Linked DNA regions of Homo sapiens: regions 1, 2 and 4 are each reported to be linked to region 3. The links are microRNA targets in miRTarBase. Many come from high-throughput screens and were not tested one by one. Region 3 holds a microRNA gene; each other region holds the end of a gene's coding sequence.

Region 1 (5,061 bases), not on the chromosome of region 3:
ACGTATGGTAAACTGGATAAAGAAAATGTGGTACATACGGAATGTGGTACCATGGAATACTATACAGCCATAAAAAAGGATGAGATCATGTCCTTTGCAGGAACACGGATGGAGCTGGAGGCCATCATCCTTTGTAAACTAATGCAGGAACAGAAAGCCAAACACTGCATGTTCTCACTTATAAGTGGAAGTTAAATGATGAGAACACATGGACACAAAGAGGGGAACAAGACATTGGGGCCTATTTGAGGTTGGATGGTGGCCAGGGGAGAGCATCAGAAAAAAATAACTATTAGATACTAGGCTTAGTATAATATTTGGGTGACAAAATAATCTGTACAATAAACTCCTGTGACAAGTTTACACACACACACACACACACACACACACACACACATATATATACATACAACCTGCACATGGACCCCTGAACCTAAAGTAAACCTTTTTTTAAAGCTTCCCCCCAAATAAAAAAAAATTTAAAATTTAAAATTTAAAAAAAAGTGCTGCTGCCTGAGTCCTATCTCCTGTGATTCTGACATTGTTGATCTTGCATATGGCCTGGGCATTGGGTCTCTCAAAGTTTTCCCGCTGATTTCAATGTGTAGTCAGAATTAAGACCCACTACTGTAGAATTTGCCCAAGATTGTCTGGTTCTAGAAATCTCGTTGGGTCATCAGAATTTGTTTACTTCTCTCACATGGAAGTGGTATAATCTCCCATATTAGTGCTACCCTTTGCATGAAACTGAGGCATAATTGGCCTGTTTCAGGCTACCCAGTGTTATCTCATGACCGGGAGCATCCACATCACCCAGGAGCTTGTTAGAAATGCAGCCTCAGGCTGGGCATGGTGGCTCACGCCTGTAATCCCAGCACTTTGGGAGGCCGAGACGGGCGAATCACAAGGTCAGGAGTTCGAGCCCAGCCTGGCCAACATAGGGAAACCCCGTCTCTACTAAAAATACAAAAAAAAGTAGCCAGATGTGGTGGCGGGTGCCTGTAGTCCCAGCTACTTGGGAGGCTGAGGCAGAATTGCTTGAACCTGGGAGGCGGAGGTTGCAATGAGCCGAGATCGTTGCCACTGCACTCCAGAGTGAGAGACTCCGTCTCAAAAAAAATAAAAAAGAAAGAAAGAAAGAAAGAAATGCAGCCTCAGCCCAGTCCCACAGAACAATTAAAACCGAATCTGCCTTTAAGATACCCAGGTGTTTCAGTTGCATATTCAAGTTTAGGGAGCACAACACAGTGGCCTCAAATTCTGCATTCCTAACACAATGCTTCCTAGTATTATGGATACTGCCGGTCCTCATCCACAGTGGCAAGGATCTAAAGCACTTTCTGTAAGTGTAGGAAACTCATTCTGGAATTCACCACAAACCTGAATTGAATTCTCTCCGAATCTGCCTTTTTAATTGACTGCTTATTCCCAGATGATTCTTATTTACATGAAAGTTTGAGAACCACTGATGCAGGCCCAACTTTTTCCCAGAGCAGGACTCATTCTCTTATTTGAAAAGCAGCTCAGTCTAATTGCACTTAGCCTACATCAGCCTAGAGGAAAGTATATTATCCTCTAGAGAAAAATACATCATCTCTTCCTTAGCCCTTCAAATAACTGAAGCTAATCTTTCTCCTGTTGCCTGGTCTTCATTGTCAGGCTTAGATTTGCCAACAGTTGCTCCTGATTCTGTTTCTTACTCTTCCTGGTATCCCCCTATGTCCCCACGACACACTGGAAACCTTTCACTTCAGCCATACTCCTCACAGTAAGACAGGCCAAAGCTAGAGGAAAGCTCTAAAGTGTGCCACACAGTATACAAATGACACTATCATCGGCTCTGATCAGAACTTCTGATTTTTTAATAATGCGGCTGGAGGTTCCATTCTTTTTAGAAAAGCTATATATCATGTTAGTTCAATATTAAGCTTTCATTTAACCACATCTCCTATGTTCCTTCCCTATGGATCATCAACAGATGTCACCTCATTCCAATATTTTCACAAGTACTGACTGACAAATAAATTTCATCACTGTGATCTCTGCCCACTATTTCAGCCAACAAGGAATTTCCGGTCACTGGTCCTAAATACATGGAACAGTCAGTCTTGGATTCAGACAGTCAGAAGACATGGATTCAAGTCTGATCTCTACAACTTTGCTATAGGCCTTACACAAGTTCTTTAGCCTTTATAAGCCTGTTTTTAAATCTATAAAATGGACACAATAATAGTACCTACCTTATAGTTGTGAGGATTCAATAAGGTAATACAAAAATCACTTTGCAAAGTATAAACCTGTGTAAATGTGAGTTATTAACGAAAGCATCCCAAGACACAAGGTACAAATAACCCACAAACTTAATCATAATAACCATTCATTCTTTGTGTTTTCTACCCCCACATGAAATTAGTGGCAGTTCTGAGATCCTCTGAAATGCAAACGCTGTCTCCTCCACTACCATCTGTGACCCATTCTAGTTTGCTTTCCTTCCTGATAAGAGTTCCTGTCTTTTATTGACAAAAGGCGGGGAAACCTGGTGTAAGAACCAGTGTAATTAAATACCAGGATAGTTCTCTAGAAACCAACCATGTGGAAGTGGATGAAACCAGAAAAACCCTTTAATGTCGCTGACGTGGGTGTCCAAATGTTCGGGCAGGGCATCCACTTCCAGTTTCTCACTGAAAGAGGAACTTAAAATTGCTAAGGTTCTGGTTGTTGGAATTCTGTAGAGCCACGGTTCCCAAGCAAAGGGAAACATGCAATGAATATGATATGATATATGATATGCTACAATATATTCTATCAACATGAGATCTCACCCTGCCTCAAGACCATGAGAGCCCTCTGAACTTATTCAGGAACAATGAGGTATCTACCCATTTCCTATAATAAGGACAATCTCAAAAACTGAATTCTCAGACTTAATCCAAAAGACTAGGAAGTGCTTGGTAGTTTTCACTAAAGTCCTTCCCTACGAACCTCCAGGTACCTTTCCAAACACAAATCTATAGAATTGTAGAATACATTATAGCATATCATATATCATATCATATTCATTGCATGTCTCCCTTTGCTTGGGAACTGTGGCTCTACAGAATTCCAACAACCAGACCTTAGCAATTTTAAGTTCCTCTTTCAGTGAGAAAATGGAAGTGGATGCCCTGCCTGAAATCTTTGCTAATTTCCACGATTTACAGATTAGAATAGCTGAGGTTTTTAGAGCACACATACTTTTGCAAAAGACTAATCAAAGAGTCACAACTAGAGGACATGTACAAAGCAAGAAATTCAACGATTAAATATACTCGGACTACTTAAGTAACAAACACCTAATGTTTATTAATAAATTAGTACACTTGAAGGCATTTTTCTGATATCGGTCCTTCACCACTACCCACAAACCCCACCCACACAAAGGGAGTCCACGCCACCTTTGCATTGGAACCTGGCAACTGAGCATTAGAAGGTACATTTGTAAATGGGAGCATAGTTGCAAATATATCAGACAAGGGTTCTTACAGTTGCAGCCATTTTTAATTAAAGTAATTGGTGAAGGAATCCCACCAGGACCAAGGCCTTGAGAGCAGATTGGACCTATTGATTATGTGTATATAAAAAACAAGACATCTTTTAAAGCAAAGCTGGGCAAATTCTCTATGGAAAGGGCGCCACTGGCACTTGATTTTGACTTTCCAAAGTGCAGCAATGTGTTCCAGAACAGCTCAAATCCTAAAAGGTGAAGTTCAAGTTCTTTGGTGGCCCAGTTGTCAAGCCACTTAAATAGCAAATCCTGATGGCTTGAGGATTTCATTTCTCCAGCCCAGAGCATATTAGCATAAGAAGAGTACAAGTAATCAAGCATTCTACACGGTGTCCAGGTGAAAACCATACAATCAGCAATAGTGTGGTCAAGTTTCAGCCATGAATATGAACTATACAAGACATATTTAAAAGATAACTCAAAGTTGAATTGCATTACAGTAACTCAATGGGGTCTTAAATTTTCTTAATCTTTAAGAAAATTTATAAAGGACAAACAATAATAAAAATAGTAATAATATTTGTTTTTAAAAAGTAGGTGTGAATGTTAAGAGACATAAAGACTGCTTATAGGATTCACAAGATGCCATTATACTTTTAAGAAGTTAAGAGCCTCACAATCCAGTGTGTGGGAAAAGTCACACTGCATTTATGGTAAGTTAAGTAAATTTAAAGTGCACAGAATAATCTTGAAAATACATAAGAAGGCAAAATGGAGAAAATATGGAACTTAAAAAACTTTAGTGGTGGGTATTTCACAACAGTTACACCTGGCAAAGGCTTATAAACCAACTTCCCAGAAGAGTTATTTAAAAAAAAAAGAGAGAGAGAGAAGGAGAAAGAACTCAAGCACTGGCCATATTCTCTGTTAAACACACACACACACACACACACACACACACACACAAACACACACACACACCCCAAACAACAAAAATCAGAAACAGAAGAAAATTAAAAAACCACCCTGCCACTAAATTGAGTAATTTCCAGAATGCAGTATCCCTATGTTCTACAGCAGGTCAGGAAGATGGCTATAAACAGAGTCCAGGAGGGTCTGGCTGGCTTCCTGGCTCTTGACTCCAATAATTTCGAATAGCCGGTCTAGTTTGTCCTCAGCCTGGGGAATCTCTTCAATCACCCGCAGCTCCTCAGGATTTAGAAAGTGGAGCATGTCATCAAAGATAGGCTGCAAGTCACAGGGGTCCAGGCGTACCTGCCGCAACACTGTGTCCTTCTTTTCTGCAGAGAAGAGAGGGAAGCAAAGACAGCTGTAAGGTGACTGTACTGGCAAGGCCTGGAGGAAGGAGAGCAGGGTCCTAGAGAGAGAGACATCTATGTCCCCCCCAGCCTATTATTCTCCATCCTCCATTACAGTGAGAGAGTGAGTGATCCTCTGGCACATTCGAAACAACACAAGAGTTTTTACTTGTGTTGCACGTGTAAGATAGCAAACAAGATTTGCCTGGTAGAGATCAGACAAGGTCTTGCTTGAATGGCTTGCTGAGTTATCATTAA
Region 2 (5,061 bases), not on the chromosome of region 3:
CTTTTCTGCCAGAATAACAGTAGGTAACCGCTTCCTCACCTCACTATGTAATCAAGTTAGGAAGGAAATACACCCTTCCTAACTCAGAAATCTGAAGAAGGGAAAGGGAAAGGATGTTTAAGTGAATTTAAGCTGTCATGAATGACATGTTTTTCTATGTGTAGTTGTGTTTATTTTGCTCCAAATGAAACTTTCCATGTTTGTAATAATACTTTTGTTGACAAATTATTATACTACTTACTTTATAAGAATCTGATTGCCCTATTCATTAAAGCCTCTATATTATATTTTTTGTGTGTTTGTTTTTCACTTAGATAATCAAACTAAATAGACGTCTACAACTTCTGGAAGAGGAGAACAAAGAACGTGCTAAAAGAGAAATGGTCATGTATTCAATTACTGTAGCTTTCTGGCTGCTTAATAGCTGGCTCTGGTTTCGCCGCTAGAGGTAACATCAGCCCTCAAAAATACTGTCTCAACAGCTGGAAATATAAAAGATTTGCAAACTTCTTTGTTTCTGTCTCTGCATTGTATGCCATTTTATAGTCCACACCCTGAAAATGTATTTCTTCCAGAAAGTCTGGAGGAAGGACCTATATTTGTAGAAGTAAAGGTATATTCTGTCACTCAGCTGTATTCACGTCTGAGCAGTTCTGCAGTAACACCTGCTTAAAATTCTCCCTTTGCATGTTTTGTAAATAGGCTCCAGTTTTGTTTTTTAAAAGGAATTTATTTTTTGCCTCATCAGTCCACCCAACTGATTCTGAATGGGAGAGAGTCTGTAGAGAATTGATTCAGAAAAGTGTCTGTGAAAGAAAAACAATTATTTTGTCCTGTTTCTCAAACAGTGTTAAGCAGTTTTGTTAATAGACATTTTTGCATCGACACTTCAACATTAACACTTTCAAAGTCATGGTCTGGTGCCAGATTTAAGAAACTCGAACCACCTAATATTTCATAACCTTCTTCATTAGGTACTTGTACAGATTAATTTCTAACATTGCAGCAGTTTCATATGTGTGCAATATGTGCATTCTTTCATTTTAGTTTTGCACTTGGTTTTCTATAAAGTACGTTTTTACTCAGTTCATGCGTGAACAATTTAAAAAACGACAGAATAAGGTACAAATGTAGTGTATTTAATAAACTGTCAACCAAAGAAGTATTTGTCTGTTGAAGGATTTTATTTCATCATTTGTGCAATCAGCTACATTTTGTATCATATTACCTTATGAGTCTTCCCGTCTCAGAGCAAGTAATACAATTAATGACCTGGTAGGTAGCAAGAACCTGCTGTGCTTCCTTTCAGACCTTCATCCTGGTGGTGGTGGCTGTTGGTTGCATTGTAGGTGGTTTTCTAATTTATAATATCTATAAAGTGGTTCAGGTTTAAATACCTTGAGTTGTGTATACTTTTTTTTTTTTGAGATGGAGTCTCGCTCTGTTGCTGATGCTGGAGTCCCGTGGCATGATCTCAGCTCACTGCAACCTCCACCTCCCAGGTTCAAGTGATCCTTCTGCCTCAGCCTCCAGAGTAGCTGGGATTACAGGCGCTGGCCACCACACCCAACTAATTTTTGTATTTTTAGTAGATACAGGGTTTCGCCATGTTGGCCAGGCTGGTCTCGAACTCCTGACCTCAGGTGGTCTGCCTGCCTCAGCCTCCCAAAGTGCTGGGATTACAGCCACTGCGCCCAGCCAGAGTTGTATATACTTTTTTCATGGCAGTATTTATTTGCTAATTATATATAGGTGAATTTAAATCTCAAGGCTGGGTGTGGTGGCTCACGCCCGTAATCCTAATACTTTGGGAGGCCTAGGCGGGTGGATCACTTGAAGTCAGGAGTTCGAGACCAGCCTGGCCAATACAGTGAAACCCCATCTCTACCAAAAATACAAAAATTAGCCAGGTGTGGTGGCAGGCATGGTGGCAATAGCTGTAATCCCAGCTACTCAGGAGGCTGAGGCAGAAGAATCACTTGAACCCAGAAGGCAGAGGTTGCAGTAAGCTGAGATCATGCCACTGTACTCCAGCCTGAGTGACAGAGCCAAACTCCGTCTCAAAAAAAAACTAAAAATTTAAAAGTAAATCTCAAAAGAATTAAACCAAGTGAAGCCAAGTGCTAGACAGTTTTAGCTCTCAAAACTTATATTTCCCCATTTTCGGTTCAGAAATGGGTAGAATTCAGTTAGGTGCAACATTCTCCACACATCTTTGGTATCTTTCTTCCAAGGCAGGGAGTTTGGGGAAAGGCAGTTGAGGAAATTCCTTGGATAGAGTTAGATTTAGCATTTCCGTTCTTGCTTCTTATCCCTCTAAAATAATATCAAGACAAAGATTCTTCTCTGTACTTAGAAGTTTTCTGACTTTTGGTAATGATGCAACTATATTAATTCTAGATTTATGTATACCAGAAGGTAATTTCTGTGGTTATCCTCCAAATTGAAATCACAAAAATGAAGAAAAATGATGGATAAGGTTAGTATCTTTTGATAAACAGACATGAAAAGGATTCCACAAAGGTCAAAAAATGAAATAAAAGCAGGAATACTGAGAGAGAAGTGCGGAAGCCCTTTTTTTCCCTCATGATTCTTACCAAAGAATGGACACTTGGAGCTTTCTCCCTTAATGATTGTGCAAGGGGTAGAAGATCGACTTCCCTACCTCAGGCAGGCACCAGCTGTAACAGGAGACTCGTGAATGAAGCTAAGACCCCAACAGACGGTGAATGAAAACTCTGTTTACAGTGCAAAAGGGGACAACCAAGAAACCTGCCTTACCTGACCTTGTCACATATCTAGAAGTAGAAAAGCTTGAATCTCTCTAACTCCAAAGTTAGGATCTCTATTAAACACCTGTGTACTTCCCCTAAAAATTGTTAATTACTGTTGAAATATATTTTGGAGTTGAGAAGAACAAATTAGTTCCTGGTTAGTATAACCAGATATTTGAGCTGAGCCTTTCAACAAGCAGAGAAAGAACAAGAAAATATTCCAGGTGCAGATGATAGAGGGAGAAATGGATACAGTCAGGAGCCAAAGTCGTATCATACAACTAAGTATAGCAAATATATTGTTGCACTACTGAAAGTGCACCCTTCTCCCCACTTCTAGTAATTATGGTTGAAGTATGTGCAGGTTGTTTACACTTTGAAGGATAACATCATGGAAGTAGTATATTTTCAAGAGAGCTTTCCTTTTTCCTTCCTTCCTGCATGAATGTGTGTTTCCAGCTCCTTAACTATAGTGATTGCCCAGCCCTTATCCAAAATTCTTTGGACCAGAAGTATTTTGAATTTCAGAGTTTTTCAGATTTTCAAGTATTTACATATACATAATGAGATATCTTGAGGATGGGACCCAAGTCTAAACATGAAATTCATTTATATTTCATACATACCCTCTACACATAACCTAAAGATAATTTTATACAATATTTCAAATTTTGTGTATGAAACAAAGTTTGTGTATGCTGAACCATCAGAAAGCAAAAAGCAAAGATGTCATAGTGATATCTCAGCCACGCATGTGGACAGTCGGGTTTTTTGCCATCACTATCATTCCTGACTCTGAGTGTATATGCTGCCAATAAACAGTCATTTTTTCTTAACACTTTTTCACACATAAATACTTAACATTAAAAAATGACACACTATTAATACAGTGAAAAAACTGCGTTCAAGTAACTAAGCAGCACAGGGGCATCACCAGATACTGCACCAGCTGTTAGACAACAGCCACAACCAAGAACAGCCACGGCAAGTTTCCTGTCCCCACTGGCGGTACTGTTGGAGTAAAGATTACTGGACACTATTTTTTTCAGTGAGAAGAAACATGAGAAGCAGTTGAGAGGCTAGGAAGTGGATCCTGTGGAGACGAGGCATTCTTCTCAGTGGCTTTTTAAAGTATTTCTTCCAGAGTCATCTACCTCATGAACAATGTTTTTGTCTGAGAAACCTCTCTTTGCTTTTATAAACTGACGTGATTTCTTGTTCTGTTTTGAATACACACTGCTCTAGTCCTTCAAGAAGCCCATCACGTATTTTCACCATATAATCTGTAGGCACTTTTTCTGCAATGTTAATGTCTTCACTATTAGGATCACCTTTGATTCAGAACCGTTCAGCTATTTCACCATGGGTTGATGAACAACTGGAGACCCATCATCGATGTTAAAAACTTCAACATCCACTTCTTCCAGCTTACTGACGGACTCTGAAGGTATATTTTTTACATATATAAGGAGGTCAGACATCATTTTTTTTTCTCACTTGACATAGGGATTCCTTCCAAGTCACCACCTTGTTTATCATCATCACTGAACATAGTTGCAGGCCAGAGGTTGTGCTGGACATTCAGAACTGTGTCTTTAGTCACCGTGTTCTAGTTGTTGGCAACAGCATATGGCATCCTTCATGCTAAACTTGTTTTGGAAACCTTCTGTGCCATGCCCTGTTCACTGCTGCTAACATGCTATTCCAATAAAGTTTTTATATTTACTCATTGATGTAAGGATACTCTGGTCACTGGCTGAATTAATGAAGTCACATTTTGGGGAAAGTACATGGCATAAATATTTTGGGGGGTGATGAGAAAATTTGTAAGCACCATTGCTGACCCTTGTTCACTAGAGTACAGTGAGCTGTCTTATTTTTGTTTTAATTACATGACCATTAGCAGTTTGACAGTTCATTGAGTAAGTATCGAGTCTTCGCTAAAAGCTGAGTACTGAAGATAGGATTCATTAATTCATTCAACTAAATGCAATGTTTCTGCTTTGTACCAGGCACTGTACTAAGTACTCTTTATACCAGGAGGGAATAAACATGTTCCTGTACCCCTGGAGCTTATAGTCTAATGGGGGACAGTGAAATTTAAGAAGCAAGCACAAAGGAAAATGCAATCATCATTGTGATAAATGCTGTAAATGAAAGCATGGTAAAAGAGTAAAGGGAAACCTAGTTTTCATTAGACGTTTAGGAATAGCCTCTCAGAAAAAGTGGTATTTGTGCTGAAGTCAAGGATAAAGAGTGCTGCCAGAGATAAGGCAGGTGGGGGTAG
Region 3 (5,074 bases):
TGCCAGTTACTTGCTAAGATGTCAAATGTGTCTTATATTAGCTGTGGCTAATATAAGAAACTGTTGTAGACAAGATGAATCTCAGTCACAGTGATAAATGTAGCATGCAACAAAACCAGTTGTTTTCACAAAAATCTTGAGGACCCTAGAAGGGGCTCCCTCGTAACAGGTGGAATGCACAGCAGCTCTTCTTGTTGCCATAGTGAGCGATGCATGTTCTTCCAGTCCTCAACACCTTTTATTTATTTATTTATTTATTTATTTATTTTATTATTATTATTTTTTTTTGAGACAGAGTCTCGCTCTGTCACCCAGGCTGGAGTGCAATGGTGTGATCTCAGCTCACTGCAACCACTGCCTCCCGGGTTCAAGCGATTCTCTTGCCTCAGCCTCACGTGTCGCTAGGACTACAACCGTGCACCACCACGCCCGGCTAATTTTTGTATTTTTAATAGAGACAGGGTTTTGCCATGTTGGCCAGGTTGGTCTGGAACTCCTGACCTCAGTTGGTCCACCTGCCTCAGCCTCACAAAGTGCTGTGAATACAGGTGTGAGCCAACACGCCCGGCTATCAACAACTTTTCCTACGTAGAAATTATTCGGGCACTGGTTTATAGAACCTCACGTGGGTTCACGTAGAATTGAAGGGGACCTCAGCGTCCCTTGCAGATGGGATGTGCAATGTATTTGAGATGTACTCGAACATTGCTGTTGAGGTGTGGGCATCTTTTGCTTTTTCCTAATTTTAAATATGGGACTAGTCTGGGTATGGTGACTTCCACCAGTAATTCTAGCACTTTGGGAGGCTGAGACAGGAGGATCACCTGAGGTCAGTTGTTCGAGACCAGTCTGGCCAGCATGGTGAAACCCCGTCTCTACTAAAAATACAAAAATTAGCCGGGTGTGGTGGCACTCACCTGTAATCCCAGCTACTCGGGAGGCTGAGGCAGGAGAATCACATGAATCTGGGAGGCGGAGGTTACAGCGAGCAGAGATCACACCGTTACACTCCTGCCTGGGCAACAGTGTGAGACTCTGTCTCTAAATAAATAAATAAATAAAAATAAAAATAATTAGGTGAATATGGGACCAGCATGGACTTGGGTGTCGCCTTTGTGCAGTGGCCAGGATATTCTATGTCATTTAAATTTTTTTATGTGTACTTCCAAAGCAAGCAGTTATGTATAGGAATTATTCTTCCTATAAGCATGCAATATTTGGAACTTTCTTTGAGACAGGGTCTCAAAAATACATGATGTATATTTCATTTTATATTCTTATATATTATGTACACACAAAATACTCTTCTAAACACAGAGAATACTCCGATATCACCTAGGGTGTGTGTGCGTGTGCGTGTGTGTGCGTGTGTGTGTGGTTCTTTTCTGAGACAATATCTGCCTCTGTCACCCAAGATGGAGTGTGGTGGTGCAATCTCGGCTTACTGCAACCTCCACCTCCCACCTAAGCCTGCTGAATTAGTCTCTACAGGCATGCACCACCACACCTGGCTAACTTCTGTAATTTTTGTACACATGGGGTCTCGCCATGTTGCCGGGGCTGGTCTCGAGCTCCTGAGGCAGGTGATCCTCCTGCCTGGGCCTCCTAAAGTTCGAGGAGTTAGAGGTCTGAGCCACTGGGCCCCACTTGTACTTGTGTATTTCTGCTCAAATTTTATTGAGTAGTTTTTACATCCTAGCCTGTGATCTACTCTGGAGAGTGTTTGTGCATATGACAGTGTATATTCTTCAACATCGTAGACTCCATTTTGGATGCTCCCTTCGTGACTGTGGGTCCTGTACTGGAACTCGAGTGAACACTTGGCTTAAAATCCATTGCTGTTCTCCAGAAATCCTGCCCAATTTTCTCGGTTAAAGGTACGTGTAGTAGGCATTGCTTTTTCTCTTTGGGGACAAAACTCAGGAGGATTGCCCCTTGATGAACAAGGCTAACCTGCTGATTCTTTGAAGCAAGGAACTGGAGATGGTCCTTATAGAGTTTTATATTCTGGATTCCATAAAACATGCATACAGGGTCAATAAATGCATCTTTATTTTTGTGTCTATTTTAACTTGGTCAAAGAAAATTCCAGGAAAAAATCCACGGCATCAGAGCAAGAAGATGTCAGGCTGTGACCCTCTTGAGGGAAGCACTTTCTGTTGTCTGAAAGAAGAGAAAGTGCTTCCTTTTAGAGGCTTACTGTCTGAGAAAAGCAACGTTGTAGTTGATGCTGATCTTTGTAATATCTTTGCAGAGCACGCTTATAATCAGACTTGGATGATGTTGGGGTTTTGTTTTTCTTTTGTTTTTTTATCTAAGACTGGGTCTCTGTTGCCCAGGCTGAAGTGCAGTGGCACAATCTTGGCTCACCACAACCTCCGCCTCCCGGGTTCAAGTGATTCTTCTGCCTCAGCCTCCCAAGTAGCTGGGATTATAGGACTGCGCCACCATGCCTGGCTAATTTTGTATTTTTAGTAGAGACAGGGTTTCTTTAGGAGCTTTTAAGGCCTCCCTTGTAGTCTATCCTGGAGGATGTTTGTGTGTGCAACAATGTATATTCTTCAACATGGTAGATTCCATTTTGACTGCTCTAATCAGGACTGTGTGTCCCTGTGCTGGAAATCAAGTGAACACTTGGCTGAAAATCCACTGCTGTTCTCTAGAAATCCAGCCCAATTCTCTTGGTTAAATATAAGGTATGCATAGTAGGCATTGCTTTTTCTTTCTGGACACAAAACTCAGGAGGATTTCCCCTTGATGAACAAGGCTAACCTGCTGAGCCTTTGTAGGAAGGAACGGGAGATGGTCTTTTTAGGGGTCTATGTTCTGGATTCCAGAAAACATGCAAACAGAGCCAATAAATAGGTCTTTATTTTTGTCTCTATTTTAACCTGGTCAAGGAAAATTTCTACAAAAAACCCAGGGTGCTGGAGCAAGAAGATCCCATGCTGTGACCCTCTAGAGGGAAGCGCTTTCTGTTGTCTGAAAGAAAAGAAAGTGCATCCTTTTAGAGGTTTACTGTTTGAGGAAAGCAACAGTGAAGTTGATGCTGATCTTGGTAATACATTTGCAGAGCATGCTTATCATCAGACTTGGATGATGGTGGGATTCTGTTTTTATTTTGTTTTTTTTTCTAAGACAGAGTCTCTCTTGCCCAGGCTGGAGTAGGGTAGCACTTCCAACGTAGATCTTTTAGGCTCAAACGGTCCTCTTTTTTTTTTTTTTTTTTTTGAGGCGGAGTCTTGCTCTGTGACCCAGACGAGAGTGCAATGGCGCGATCTTGTGTGCAAGCTCACCTCCTGAGTTCAAGCAATTCTTCTGCCCCAGCCTCCCAAGTAGCTGGGACTACAGGTGCCTGCCACCACTTCCAGCTAATTTTTGTATTTTTAGTAGAGACAGGGTTTCACCACGTTGGCCAGGCTGGTCTCAAACTACTGACCTCAAGATCCACCCACCTCAGCCTCCCAAAGTGCTGGGATTACAGGCGTGGGCCATTGTGCCCAGCGGTCCTCTTTTTTGAGATGGAGTCTTGCTCTGTGACCCAGGCTGGAGTGCAGTGGCAGGAACTTCGCTCCCTGTACCCTCCACCTCCCAGATTCAAGCCATTCTCTCCTGAGTCAGCCTCCCTAGTAGCTGAGATCGCAGACATGAGCCACCATACCCAGCTAATTTTTGTATTTTTATTATTTATTTATTTACTCATCGATTTTTGAAACAGAGTCTTACTCCGTCCATCAGGCTGGAGGTCAGTGGCACAATCCCACGTTCAAGCAATTCTCCTGCCTCATCCTCCCGAGTAGCTGGGATCACAGGCGCACACCACCACGCCCGGCTAATTTTTGTGTTTTTTTTGTTTGTTCGTTTTTTTTTTTTTTGTAGAGACAGGGTTTCAACATGTTGGCCAGCCCAGTCTCCAACTCCTGACCTTAAGTGAGCCCATACACAATCAAGAAGAGAGCGAGACCTGTTCTTTTTTTCTGTCTTTGACTATTTGAGACAGTCTTGCTCTGTCACCCGAGATGGAGTACATTAGTGTGATCTTGGCTCACTGCAACCTCTGCCTCCTGGACTCAAGCAATTCTCTTTTTTTTTTTTTTGGAGAAAGAGCCTCTCTGTGTCTCCCAGGCTGGACTGCAGTGGTGTGATCTCAGCTCACTGCAACCTCAGCCTTCCAAGTAGCTGGGATTGCAGACATGTACCCCCATACCAGCTATATATATATATGTATTTTAGACACAGTTTCACCATGTTAGCCAGGCCATTCTTGAATCCTGACCTCAGGTGATTTGCCGACGTAGGCCTCCCGAAGTGCTGGGATTACAGGTATGAGCCACTGCACTCAGCCTTTTTTCCTAATTTTGAATATGGGACCCATTATGAATTTGGGTGTCACCTATGTGCGGGGGCTATGGAAATCTCTGTCACCCCATTCATTTGTGTGTGCTGTCAAAGCACCAATATGTGGGAATTATGCTTTATGTGAGCATATAGTATATGGAACTTTGGTTTTTTTTTATACAGGGTCTCAAAAAAAAATGAGTATATTTCATCACAATGTTCTGTGTATAATTCCATACACACAAAATAGTCTTCTATACACAGAGAACACTCTTATATCACTTTGGAGTTGTTTTTGTTTGTGTATTTTGTTTTAATTTTTATGAGACAGGGCCTGGCTATGTCGCTGAGGCTGGAGGGCAGTGGTGAGATCTTGGCTCACTGCAACCTCCACCTGCCACCTCAGCCTCCTGGATTAGTGTCTACAGGCAGGCACCACCACCCCTGGGTAAGTTCTGTATTTTTGGTACTGATGAGGTTTCAGCACGTTCCACAGGCTGGACTCTTAACTCCTGCGATCAAGTGATCCTCCCGCTGTTCAAATTTTACTGAGGAGCTTTTAAGGCCTCGCCTGTGGTCTGTCCTGTAGTGTCCCTGTCCTGGAACTCAAGTGAATACTTGGTTTAAAATTGATTGCTGTTCTCTAGAAATCCAGCCCAATTCTCTTGGTTAAATATAAGGTATGTGTAGTAGGCACTGCTTTTTCTTTCTGGAGGCGAAACTCAGGAGGATTGCC
Region 4 (5,061 bases), not on the chromosome of region 3:
TCTGGCCAACATGTTGAAACCCCATCTCTACTAAAAATACAAAAATTAGCTAGGCGTGGTGGTCTATGCCTGTAATCCCAGCTACTCCAGAGGCTGAGGCAGGAAAATGGCTTGAACTGGGAAGGCGGGGGTGGCAGTGAGCCGAGATCACGCCACTGCACTCCAGCCTGGACAACAAGAGCAAAACTCCATCCCAAAAGAAATAAAAAAGTGAAGGAAGATAAATGAATCCTATAACTGCACAGAGCTGCTTGTGGTAGACATACAGATCTTTGTTTTAATTAAAATTTTTCCTTTTACAGTTTGTACATTCATGAATAGGTATTCATAGGCAGATTAGATTTTCCTAGATACAAAGATTAACAGGAAACAAAAAAGGAAATGGTATTATGGGGATAAGGCTCTATTTGTGCTGCAATAGCTCTGTAAACTTGATTATATTACCTGTTTAGGTGATAAATATGCGTACCATTAGACCAATGGACATGGAAACCATAGAAGCCAGTGTCATGAAGACAAATCATCTTGTAACTGTGGAAGGAGGCTGGCCACAGTTTGGAGTAGGAGCTGAAATCTGTGCCAGGATCATGGAAGGTATTTCAAAGAAACTGGTTCTAGAATACAGTCAAGCTATAGTAAACATCATGTACCTGAATACGTACAGGATAAAGAGATTGAAAGCTAGGAGTGGCCAAACGACTTCAACTTTAAACTTGTAAGTTTGGCATTTCTCTTCAGGCAGATATTTTTAAAAGCAAATCCAGAAAGCGGTTCCCCATAATTAGCATTCCTTACATTTTCTCTTCCTGGTCAGCCACACCTCTGTGCCAAGGTGGTAGTGCCCAGCTGGCATTTGCACTCTCTCAGTTGAGCCTTCCTTCTCCTAGGTCCTGCGTTCAATTTCCTGGATGCTCCTGCTGTTCGTGTCACTGGTGCTGATGTCCCTATGCCTTATGCAAAGATTCTAGAGGACAACTCTATACCTCAGGTCAAAGACATCATATTTGCAATAAAGAAAACATTAAATATTTAGTTTGGACTTGAATATCAAGTCGTTGAAATTTATTTGAAATACTTGCTGGCACTGCACCTGGATTTGTACTGCAAGACCTGACTATTCATAACGGAAAACGATTTCTAAAGCAACAGCAGGTATTTTTGTACAGGGAAGTTTAAATGTGTTTGTGTATGGAAAACTCTCCACTCTCCTCCCCTAGATGCCATGCTTCCTTTTGTCTGTTACGGTTGCCATGTTCTTTGAATAACAAATTATATAACATTTTATCCTCTCTCACCACAAGGACAAAGTATGGATGTGGCAGAGTCCTCATGAAAGATGTATCCAAACAAGATAACTTATATGTATAAAATTAAAGCATATAATATACATTTACTGTTAGTTTGTTTTGATAAGGAATAAAGGAATTTCTAACATGACTAATTTTTTTTTTTTTGAGACAATGTTTGGCTCTGTTCCCCAAGCTGGAGTGTGATGGCACAATCTTGGCTCACTGCAGCCTCCACCTCCCAGGTTCAAGTGATTCTCCTGCCTCAGCCTCAGTAGGAAATTAGCCACCACATCCGGCTAATTTTGGTGTTTTTAGTAGAGGTGGGGTTTCACCATGTTGGCCAGGCTGGTCTTGAACACCTGACCTCAGGTGATCCACCTGCCTTGGCCCTCCCAAACTGCTGGGATTACAGGCATGAGCCACCACACCTGGCCATGACTATTGTATTTTTATATTGAAAGAATTGGCTGGGCTGGGCGTGGTGGCTCATGCCTGTAATCCCAGTACTTTGGGAGGCCAAGGCGGGCAGAACATGATGTCAGGAGATCAAGACCATCCTGGCTAACATGGTGAAACCCTGTCTACTAAAGCCGGGCATGGTGGCATGCGCCTGTAGACCCAGCTGCTCGGGAGGCTGAGGCAGGATAATTGCTTGAACCCAGGAGGCGGAGGTTGCAGTGAGCAGAGATGGCGCCACTGTACTCCAGCCTGGACAACAGAGCAAGACTCCGTCTCAAAAAAAAGAATTGGCTGGGTGTGGTGGCTCAGACATGTAATCCTAGCACTTTGGGAGGCCGAGGTGGGTGGATCCCTTGAGTGTAGGAGTTCAGGACCAGCCTGGGGAACATGGCAAAACCCCATCTCTACAAAGAAAAGATAGATAGAAAAAAAAAAAGTCAATGTGGGTAGAAAACTTGAAATTCTATTTATTAAGAAATTAGTGCTGCCAGGCCACAGTAGCTCATGCCTATAATCCCAGCACTTTGGGAGGCTGAGGCAGGGATTGCTTGAGCCCAGGAGTTTGAGACCAGCCTGGGGCAACGTTGCAAAAACCCTGCCTACAAAAACAAAACAAAAAAAACAAAACAAAAAACCCAGGTATCTGGTGGTGTGCCTATAGGAGGATTGCTTGAGCCCTGGGAGGTCAAGGCTGCAGTGAGCTGTGATTGGGTCACTGCACTCCAGCCTGAGTGAAAGAGCGAAACCCTGTCTTAAAAATAACAACAAAAGAAATTAGTTCCATGTGGAAAATAAGCTGATACTGTACAAGACCATTACCTGTTTGTATTCATATATCTGAACTATCCAGAATAGTCAGCAAAACTGACTTCAGAAGGACTCAGGCCTCACAAGCCTCCATCAGGTAATCACCTAGGTTGCATCACACTTGAAACAGGAACTTCTCCACAGACTCTCCAAATGCCTAATTCTAATAGCATTCTCTTTAAAATTATGGCAAAGTTTATATCAGTTGTTTTTCCCATTTCCAAAGATCAGATATTCTGTCAAATACTGCCCTCCAGAAGCTGAGATGGAAAAGATGGGTTTAAATTAGTTAGAGAAGCATATAGGTGGTACCTAATTTAAGTAGCAAGGCAGGATTTTTAGTTCTTAGAGGAAAAGTGAGACACAAAAGAATAAGAGACAGGATAGGTAGGAAGGAAACCTTAGACTGTGTGAATCTATTCTTTGCTAACAACAGACGCTACAAAAAGTTCTCATTTGAAATATCTTGTCAAGCTACAGACAACACGTTTTCTTGACATGATTTTAATAAAAAATACAGCTGACATAACAGATTACATGAAACTATACACAATGACATTCTCTGCATAGTAACCAACACTGATGTGTGTACTTGAATTTTTAAATGGATTATTTATAATCCTTTAAAGTGCAATTTATTGAAAGGTTTAAGCAAATCAGGATAAAGGATCTTTCTAATAAATGACTAACATTAAAGAGATGCTATATTGATATATTTAGATAAATCTTTCAAAAATCATAATTGATTTCTATAGATGCCAAATTTACTTCTGTTGTAACAATGACCTGCCCCCCTCAAACCCCAAACTTAATTGCTGAGGATTAAGAAGATCCTCTAATTGGCAAGAGCTTTTTCTGATGTTAATATTTTTGTCTGTTTCAATACATCTAACTAAAAAGAACTATGGGTCTAGAGTAGTTGCTTTAGCAGCCCTGAGTTCTATAACCACAATGGTATTCCTGTTAGAACTTAAGAGAATGTTGTGAACGTTCCCCATTCTATTTGAGGAGAAAACAAAGAACTCAGTTGCTTTCTGATTTAGCAAAGTAACTATGCTTTGGGCTATAGTGTTAATGTCTAAGATAAAGGTAGCAAAAATTGGAGTTATCTAAGAATCAGAAAATGCTTTAGAGAAATGAACTGTAAGAGGAATGTTTCTAGGAGCTGTCTGATGGGGTAGAAGGGATTGCAACACAAAGGCCATTTACTGCTGTGATTGAATATTGTCATTGTTTTTCTGTCTATTTCCTTTAGTTGGTGAAAATATTTCAATATGCTGCTGTCCCAAAAGCCTGGCCATTAGAGGATAAACAAGACTCCTTTACAGGGTTAATAAAGGAGCAAGATCTTAAGGGAGCAATGCCAGCCTAACTTTATTCTGCTTAAAGAATTATTTCTCTCGAAAAGCTGCTTACATGAGCATCTGCAAAATAGTACTGTTTGTGGCTGTACTGGCTCAGCAATTACTTTCCCAGGAAGAGGGTAGTTTGGGGGGTAGGGGTGAGTAGGAATAAAAAAGAACTTTTCCCTCCAAGTGTAAACAGGAAGCTTCAGCCGATCTTCGGAGCACTGTGATCACAGGTTTTGGCTTTCCTCAAAGTTCCTTTTTGGAAATTCTGGATGGAGCTGAGCAAGGCCCCTCGGCTCATGCCATTCACAGCCTGAGACGAGAGCTGGGCAGGTGCCTCGGTGCTCGCAGGAGGCAAGGGAGCTGCTGGTGGTGGTGGAGGTGGAGGAGGTGGAGGTAATGCAGATATCCCTGTGGAGGAAAAGGGGGACAATCAGTATTCACCTCCACAGCTGCCCTGCACACACGCTGCTGCTCAGTCCTGAGCACAACGGACTGGTGAGAGTCCACATGTTTTTCTCAGAGGGACCAACATACCTAGTACTGTATGAGTTCTTAAAATACTAAAGAAAGCTAGAAGCATCAAAGGGGAATTAAAAGTTGCCATGTTTCTCAAACAATAGTCATGTTAAAGGCTGTTGGAACAAATAATTACAGATTACATGAAACCACATATGGTGACATTCTCTGCATAGATGAGGCTCTGACCCCATTTGCAAAGTAATAGTCCCCAAAGAAGAGTTCCATCTATCAGTTACTTTAGCCAGGTCCCAGGAAGCTCTGTCTGCTTCTGAGCTAGCAATTAAAGATAGACATCTGCATGATGGAGTTGGGCTTCCTGAATGTCAGTTATTCATAAGGGGTGAACAGTTCTTTCGCTGCTCCAACATACACAATGTTTGAAGGATGTGATCTTATGTAAAATGACAGACCACTCAGGATTCTCAGCAAGGAATCAGTGCCTCCTGGGTTATGCATTTCCCAGAGGAGTCTGTCTCGAATAATAATTTCCTATTAGGTTGCATTAAAGAAATATAAAATGCTAATAACTGTTAGCAATGCAAAGCAGGGGGCAGAGGGGTCTCTCTGCCATGGTATTCTTACAGAGAAATCCTTCTCAAGTACTGTTCTCTCCATTGTGGCCCAACCAAGGAACA

The links. Region 3 holds the annotated microRNA hsa-miR-519b-3p (AAAGUGCAUCCUUUUAGAGGUU, at 2,995-3,016, shown strand). A microRNA usually pairs through its seed, bases 2 to 8, with sites in the 3' UTR of a target mRNA and lowers its output. Matches are read on the target gene's strand: a 7mer-m8 pairs with bases 2 to 8, a 7mer-A1 pairs with bases 2 to 7 and ends in A, and an 8mer does both.
Region 1: miRTarBase lists TNFRSF21 as a target of hsa-miR-519b-3p. Seed matches in the 3' UTR shown: 7mer-m8 at 4,216-4,222 and 7mer-m8 at 3,699-3,705.
Region 2: the mRNA of MFF is a reported target of hsa-miR-519b-3p. Seed matches in the 3' UTR shown: 7mer-m8 at 1,051-1,057.
Region 4: miRTarBase lists PXK as a target of hsa-miR-519b-3p. Seed matches in the 3' UTR shown: 7mer-m8 at 3,182-3,188.

Annotation. Positions count from the first base shown.
Region 1 is chr6:47,228,210-47,233,270 of GRCh38, forward strand. It overlaps TNFRSF21 (TNF receptor superfamily member 21), which reads right to left. Exons shown (of 6, transcript NM_014452.5): 6 at 3,323-4,785. The coding sequence ends at 4,556. Among named protein-coding and RNA genes, the nearest start is that of TNFRSF21, 79 kb to the right of the region's middle.
Region 2 is chr2:227,356,672-227,361,732 of GRCh38, forward strand. MFF (mitochondrial fission factor) reads left to right here. Exons shown (of 9, transcript NM_001277062.2): 9 at 315-1,162. The coding sequence ends at 446. Among named protein-coding and RNA genes, the nearest start is that of TM4SF20, 20 kb to the right of the region's middle.
Region 3 is chr19:53,692,269-53,697,342 of GRCh38, forward strand. It overlaps MIR519B (microRNA 519b), which reads left to right and starts at 2,945; the gene lies at 2,945-3,025. MIR526B (microRNA 526b) reads left to right here and starts at 2,125; the gene lies at 2,125-2,207. It overlaps LOC107985342 (a long non-coding RNA gene), which reads left to right. Exons shown (of 3, transcript XR_007067332.1): 3 at 1,761-2,354.
Region 4 is chr3:58,424,006-58,429,066 of GRCh38, reverse strand. PXK (PX domain containing serine/threonine kinase like) reads right to left here. Exons shown (of 18, transcript NM_017771.5): 18 at 2,940-4,315. The coding sequence ends at 4,107. It overlaps PDHB (pyruvate dehydrogenase E1 subunit beta), which reads left to right. Exons shown (of 10, transcript NM_000925.4): 9 at 453-594; 10 at 888-1,437. The coding sequence ends at 1,033. Among named protein-coding and RNA genes, the nearest start is that of PDHB, 7.3 kb to the left of the region's middle.